Linked DNA regions of Homo sapiens. The protein of the gene in region 1 purifies or fractionates together with the protein of each later gene. This does not show direct contact. Each region holds a gene or a part of one and is shown in the gene's direction. Other genes may lie near its edges.

What was found. Proteins that work in one complex are often made in the same cells at the same time.
Region 2: the proteins of MACROD1 (region 1) and CSTF3 purify together in Homo sapiens (affinity purification with mass spectrometry, with the first as the bait; one study listed by BioGRID). This does not show direct contact.

The regions. Positions count from the first base shown.
Region 1 is NC_000011.10:64,163,314-64,167,275, reverse strand, and holds the start of MACROD1 (ADP-ribose glycohydrolase MACROD1), read left to right. Parts: upstream 1-1,162; 5' UTR 1,163-1,281; coding exon 1,282-1,579; intron 1,580-3,962. UniProt on the Homo sapiens protein: Removes ADP-ribose from aspartate and glutamate residues in proteins bearing a single ADP-ribose moiety. Inactive towards proteins bearing poly-ADP-ribose.
Region 2 is NC_000011.10:33,102,481-33,105,980, reverse strand, and holds part of CSTF3 (cleavage stimulation factor subunit 3), read left to right. Parts: intron 1-63; coding exon 64-98; intron 99-287; coding exon 288-414; intron 415-2,796; coding exon 2,797-2,874; intron 2,875-3,500. UniProt on the Homo sapiens protein: One of the multiple factors required for polyadenylation and 3'-end cleavage of mammalian pre-mRNAs.

The DNA.
Region 1 (3,962 bases):
TTACAGGTGTGAGCACTTATTCATTATTCATTATTACATTCATTATATTATTATAATGGCCCGGCCTGTATTCATTATATTTATCATAAAGTAATATTAATAGTACATAAAAATATATAAAAGTACTTAAAAATCCATCCTCGTGTTTTTTGTTTTGTTTTCTTTGAGACAGAGTCTCGTTCTGTCACCCAGGCTGGAGTGCAATGGCACGATCTCGGCTCACCGCAACCTCCGCCTTCCGGGTTCAAGTGATTCTCCTGCCTCAGCCTCCCGAGTAGCTGTAATTAACAGGCATGCACCACCACGCCTGCATAATTTTTGTATTTTTAGTAGAGACGGGGTTTCGCCATGTTGGCCAGGCAGGCCTCGAACTCCTGACCTCGTGATCCACCCAACTCGGCCTACCAAAGTGCTGGGATTACAGGCGTGAGCCACCGCGCCCGGCCGGTTTTTGTTTAAAAAAGAAAAGAAAAAAAAAAAAAAACACACAGACACACACAAAAACATCACCCCAATCCTTCCACCCTTGAACGCCACTTGAAGCCTAAGTTTCCTGCCTCCAAATTCCACTATTTCCACCCTCGACTCTCCTCCCCAGCTGTCCTAGATTCTGCTCCAGCTGAGCCTTGGCCCCGGGGCTGTTAGAAGGCAGAGGCTCTGGGGAGAAGTCCCCAAACCGGATTTACCCGTTCGTCGCACCTGTCCCTAGGAGGGCAGGCTGGGGTGTGGAGGCGGTGCCCTGCTGACCCGCGGGGAGAGAAGCCCGGGTCTCCCAGGCTGCAAAACGCTCGGCACTGCGGAAGCCGCGCCAGGCTCTCCCAGCTCGATACGCAGCGGCCGGCGCGCCTGCTCCGCCGCGGGGCCGAGCGGCAGAGGGGCCCGGGGCTGCGTGGAAGGCCCGGGGGCTTCAGCCCGTGCCGGGGAAGCCGACGCTCAGCCAACCAGAAAGTTAGAGGCGGCCGAGGTCTCGCGGAGGGGAGGCGCCTGGCGGCCACGGGAGAAGTCGAAGGGCTCAGGCGGGGCTCCATCCGCGACACTGGGAGCCCGGGCGGGCGCGCACGTGTGTATACGAGTGCGTGGGCCCATCCGGCGGCCCGGACTACAAGTTCCAGGGTGCCCAGCGGCGCTCCCGGGTTTTCTGGCCGCGCCTCCCGCTGGCTCCGAGCAGGTCGCCGCTGGCTGGCAGTCGCCACCCGGTCCCAGAGTAAATAAGGGAGAGACACTCCCGAGCGCCGTAAATAGAGTCCAAGTGGGCGGAGAGCCGTCCCGCGCCGCCCGCTCATGTCTCTACAGAGCCGACTGTCCGGCCGCCTGGCACAGCTGCGCGCGGCGGGGCAGCTGCTCGTCCCCCCGCGCCCCCGGCCCGGACACTTGGCGGGTGCCACGAGGACCCGCAGCAGCACGTGCGGTCCCCCGGCGTTCCTGGGCGTGTTCGGCCGCCGTGCGCGGACCTCGGCGGGAGTTGGGGCGTGGGGGGCGGCGGCGGTGGGGCGGACAGCCGGGGTGCGCACTTGGGCCCCCCTGGCCATGGCGGCGAAGGTGGACCTGAGCACCTCCACCGACTGGAAGGAGGCGAAATGTAAGTGTAAGCACGAGGGGGCGCGAGGGAGAGGGCGGCCTCACGTGGAGCTTCCCGGCTGGGCGGCCCCCAACGAGCGAGCAGCCCCTTCCACCCGAGAGACCTGGGGAAGTTGAGGCCCCATCTGCCCTGGAACGGACCCCTCCTCCCCATTGACAGCCCCCCCCGCCCCCGCGCGTGTTCCCAGCCCCACAGAACAATTCACTCCAGACCAGGTCCAAGTGTCCACGCAGGGGGCAGCGTGAGGAAGGCGGCCTTCCTTACCCCATTGGAATGGGTCACAGGGCACCCCAGAGATTGTGCAGGACCTACCAACTTCCTTCCCTGTGCAGGAGGGAAACTGAGGCCGAGTGCCACAGCTGGCTTCCCCAAGGTCACTCGGAGCTGGTGGCAAAGTGGAGGTTATGATCCCGGACTCTCCAAACTTTGCACAGTGTGGTTCTTAAGTGTTCGGGAATGGGGCTGAGGGAACAGCTCCGGGGCTGGCGTCCCACCTGGTGGGGCACGTAACCTCACAGAGTGACCTTCCTGGGCTGGCCTGTCCTGCCTCCACCCCACCCCAAGCCCGCACTCTGATGCCTTCCTGGGCACGTGGTCTGGCGCCCTTTTCCCCTTCTCGCTGGCCTCTGGCCACTTGTGAGCAGTTTGCTCATGCCAGGAACAGAGGTTAGAGGAGCAGGGCAGAGGTGGGGTCTTGTCCCTGTGACAACTGATGACACCCTTCAAGAATCACACCACTTCCTCTTGCTCCTGGAGGGGGCATGAGTCTGGGGCCTGGGGAGAGAGAGAACCCAAGCTGCCGCTACTGAGCCCCAAATAGCCCTGCCGGGCACCCAGCTGCCCCTGCCTTTCAGGGCCTGCCTCCTGGGATCCTGTGACTCTTCCCGGCTGGATCCCCTTTCAAAAGTGCAGGGAAGTGGCTAATTGGCTGGGCCTCCGTGGTGGAGTAGGTGTGGCCTCTGGGCTGGGCAGGCAGGATGGGGGGGTCCTGCGGTGTTAGGGGTGAAGAGAAGATGGCTTTCTCGGGACCAGAGGTGGAAATCAAAATGATTTACTCCTGACATGAATTGTGTGGCCTGCGCCAGGATCTAAAAGTGACGGCAGAAAGCACCGACTTTAGCCCGTGAGCAGATGGAGAACTTGTCAGGCACTTGGCCCTTGCCCCAGAACAGCAGGAGGAGTTTGGGGCTGGCAGAGACCCCTGGAGGGGGAGCCACTGTCCCCACAGAGACCCCTGCTCCCCTGAGCACTCTCTCAGAGGACAACAACCCAGGAGGGTGGGAAAGAGCTACGGAGACAAGGTGCCCAGGCACCTGCTCGAGGGCTGCCGCTGTTTTTAGGATCCAGCCCCCACAGCCCCACTCCTTGGTGCCAGGAAAGCAACCGGACCTTGTGATGGGGCTGGGGTTCCTGGGCTGCTGTGTTGTCACTGGGGTCTCCCTTTTGCTTCGAGGTGGGATTTCCAATCATGCAGCAAACTTTTATTGAACGCCCCCTAGGTGGTCAGGCTGGGGACTCAGACATGTGTCAGATAGGCAAGGGCCCTGCCCTCATGGAGCTTGTAATCTGGTGTGAGGATTACAAAGCATCTATTGTAAAGAATGTGTTCTAGCAGCTGAGACAAGGCCCGGTAACCTCAGTGCTGTGAAGACACCATAGCAGATGGGGCCACCTGAGCTGGGGAGATCAGAGGAGGCGTCTCAGGGGTGGTGGCCTGAGAAGAGGCATCCAGCTGGGTAATGATATTCCAGACCCGTTATTGAGTGACAGTGGGCCAGGCCCAAGGAGTGGGGCTGGTCTGGGGCTCTGCCTGCTACTGAAGCCACAGTTAGAGGGACGCTTTCGGGGGTGAGATGTGGAGATCCCCCAATAGTTATCTATTTCTGTGTAACAAAACACCCCGAACCTTAGTGGCGTAAAACAGCAAACCTGCATTCTCTCCATCTCTTGAGGGTCAGGAAACTGAGAGAAGCTTAGCTGGGTGGTTCTAGCTCAGGGTCTCCCTCCCTCTGAGGCCGGGTGGGACTTGGTTAGGGCTGGAGGATGGGCTTCCTAAACAGCTCCCTCCCATAAAATGGCATTTGGTGAGAGGCCTCGGTTGGTCACTTTGGGGCCTCTCCATGGGGCTGCTTGAGTGCCTCACATGGGATAGATGTCCTAAGCTTTTCCCCCAGAGCATATGCTCCACGAGAGGGATCGTGAGGAGACCCCGATGGAGCTGCAGTGCCTTCTTTGTGACCTCGTCTTCGAAGTCTCTCCTGCTTTATTCTAGGGGTCAGAATCGAGTCAGGGAGTCTGGCCATACTCCAGGAGAGGGAAATTAGGCTCTACCTCTTGAAAGAAAGAATCTCAAAGAATTTGAAGGTGTGTTTTTATTTTCTTA
Region 2 (3,500 bases), about 31 Mb from region 1:
TAATGTATGCACTTAAATGTAAGAATACCAAGAAAGATATTAACATTTCATTTTATTTCTTAGATTTGGGTGGATTACATCAATTTCCTAAAAGGCGTGTAAGTATTTGTATAGTTTTTTTTTACATCTACAGTTGATTTAGCTAAAATATAATTTTTAGTTCTTTGAGAAATCTCCATACTATTTTCCATAGAGTTGTTCTTTGGGTAGATATCCAGTAGTGAGATTGCTGGGTTGAATGAGATTTGGTTATAATATAATTGATGGCATTTCTTATCCAATCTCAGGGAAGCTGTAGGATCTTATGCAGAAAATCAAAGAATAACAGCTGTCCGAAGAGTTTATCAACGAGGTTGTGTTAATCCGATGATCAACATTGAACAGCTCTGGAGAGACTATAACAAGTATGAAGAGGTAAATTAGGTCAGAGTAGTTGTTTATTATAAACCAAGCCATTTTAATTTCTATGCATTGTGGATTTGTAGATTATAGCCTTTCTGTATCAGTGTTACACTTTTTTTATTGATTGTAATGAAAGCACTATAATGTTTTTGCAAGGTTTGAGAGTCTCCATATAGTGTTATTTTTTAGAGGATACTCTGAAGAACAATAGTTCTTATAAAACTATTTTTATTCTTTGCTAAGCCATATCCACACATTCATACACACACATACACATTGTCATTGACCTATAAAACAGTACCTTTTGGGAATTATGTTTCCAATAGTACCTTTTGGGAATTATTTTTTGGTTGCTGTGCACCTTTTTCACCTGATTACAGTGATGTGATGATTGGTTTGAATTTGTGAAGTGTGTGGCTACAATCCAAGATCTTTGTGTTATTGGTATCTACTTTTAATAACTGAGCTAATCAATCTGAATACATAAATACACATGCCAAATAAGCTCTAGCATTAAAAGGAAGTTCCTTGGCTGGGCATGGTGGCTTACACTTGTAATCCCAGCACTTTGGGAGGCCGAGATGGAAGGATTGCCTGAGCCCAGTAGTTTGAGACCAGCCTGGGCAAGATGGTGAGAGCCCGTCTCTAAAGAGAAAAAAAGAAAGTTTTTCGTATGTATATTGTGATTTGGAAGAACTATATAGGGTAGTGAAATTGTTCCCTCACAGGCATCAGCTGTGGTTTTCAAACTTTATGGTTTTTGGATTTTAACAGTTATTGAAGATCACAAAGAATTTTTTGTTTTTATTTTTTTGAGACAGGGTCTTACTCTGTCACCGAGGCTGGAATGCAGTGGCACAATCACAGCTCATTGCAGTCTCAACTTCCTGGGCTCAGGTGATTCTCCCACCTCAGCCTCCCAGGTAGCTAAGACTACAGGCATGCCCCACCACTCTCAAGCTAATTTTTTGTAGAGATGGGGTTTCTCCATGTTGCTCAGGCTGGCCTTGAACTCCTGAGCTCAAGCAATTAGCCCGCCTCGGCCTCCCAAAATGTTGGGATTACAGGCACGAGCCACCATGCCTGGCCAAAAACTGTATTTTCCAAAACAAAAAATGTAGTGTGTAGTGAGAAGAGTGGCATTGTTTTATATTTTCACAAATCTCTTTCATATCTAGTGTAATAGAAAACAGCTGGATTTTCATATCTGCTTCCATTTAGTGTGTTATAATACTAAATGTCACGTAGCCTCTGTAAAACTCCTGTATTTTATGAGAGAGGCAAATAATGTCTTAGTGTTATAATGACAACTATTTTGATCTCATGGACTCCCTGAAAGGGTCTTAGAATCCTTGGAGTACTCACTGAGTGGTAATGTTTATCTTTCCTTGCTACTTCTGTTTGTCTTTTTAAAAAGTGTTATACAACAGAACTAGTTAGAAAAGGGCTATTAGCCAGGTGTGATGGCTAATGCCTGTAATCCCAGCACTTTGGGAGGCTGAAGTGGGAGGATTGCCTGAGGCCAGGAGTTTGAGGCCAGCCCAGGCAACATAGCAAGACTATGTCTCAACAAAAAAAATTTTTTTAATTAGCCAGATCTGGCAGGGCACACCTGTAGTCCTATGTCTGAGGCAAGAGGATTACTTGAGCCCAGGAGTTCAAGGTTCCAGTGAGTTAGGATGGCACCACTGCACTGTAGCCTGGGTGACAGAGGAAGACTCTGTTTATAAAAAAGAAAAAGAAAAGGGCTATCAAAGTCAAGCCATGGCTATTCACCCAGATGAATCTGTACATATTTTTTTTTTCTTTGAGACAGAGTCTCGCTCTGTCGCCCAGGCTGGAGTGCAATAGCATGATCTCAGCTCACTGCAACCTCTGCCTCGCCATTTCAAGCAATTCTCCTGCCTCAAGCTCCCAAGTAGCTGGGATTACAGGCGCACACCACCACACCCAGCTAATTTTTTTGTATTTTTAGTAGAAACGGGGTTTCACCATGTTGGCCAGGCTGGTCATGAACTCCTGACCTCAAGTGATCCACCCAACTCGGCCTCCCAAAGTGCTAAGATTACAGGCATGAGCCATGTCATTTTTTTTTCAGTAGAATCTTATATGAAATTATTGAGCCTTTTCAAATGATTCTATCTTTAAAAGTTCCTGATAAATGGAAACTTACTGCCAGCTCATAAGACATAAGCACATCCTCCTTGATCTTGGAAATGTATAATGTGATTGAACCTTTTTTCCCTGCTTTTCATGAGCTGTATGAACCTTTATTAAACAAGAAATCTTTTAAAATAAAAATTTAAAGTTATTTAGTAAATGAATAAATTAACTGTATTGTACTAATTTTTAAGAAACTATACTTAATTTTAAAATATTTTTGTTTTTTTCTAGGGTATCAATATTCATTTAGCTAAAAAAATGATTGAAGATCGGAGTAGAGATTATATGAATGCTAGACGTGTAGCAAAGGTATGGAATTCCATCAGGCTATTTTAATGATTATTATGAGTCTGTTGTTTACAGCAGAGCTTTCCCTGTCTGGTATTACTCTTGATATTTTCAGTCATTAGCAATCTTAACAGCAATTAATTGCAAAGTCTGAGGAGATGACATATTTGAAATGAAATCTCTCTTTGTAAGAACAAAATATAATAAATTGGGTTTAGAAGAAATTGTTTTTTAAAATATGGAAACAGAAGACATAGAGAGAGACAAGGCTCTACTTAGAATTGATGAAGTAATTCTTTTCCCTCTATTATTTGGGTTCATCTGAATATTGTATTACTCTGTGGTCTAATAACATAGCTCTCAGGGACACATTTTGATTGTGTGCATACCTTTCCATTCATTGACACTCTTGGAAGTTAGGAAAAATAGCCTATTAATACAAACTATTGAAATTTTAAAAGACAGTTTCTCCAAAGATGGCAATAATAATGCCACCAGATCTTCAATCCTATTGATCTGTCAACTCTTACATCCTGGAAAGTAACCTCCTAGATCACTTACAGAGAGGGCCCATGGGTGTTTTGTTTACCCACTCCTGGGAACCTGTTCTTGAGTGGGTAATACTCTTATCTTTCTCTCTACTCTTA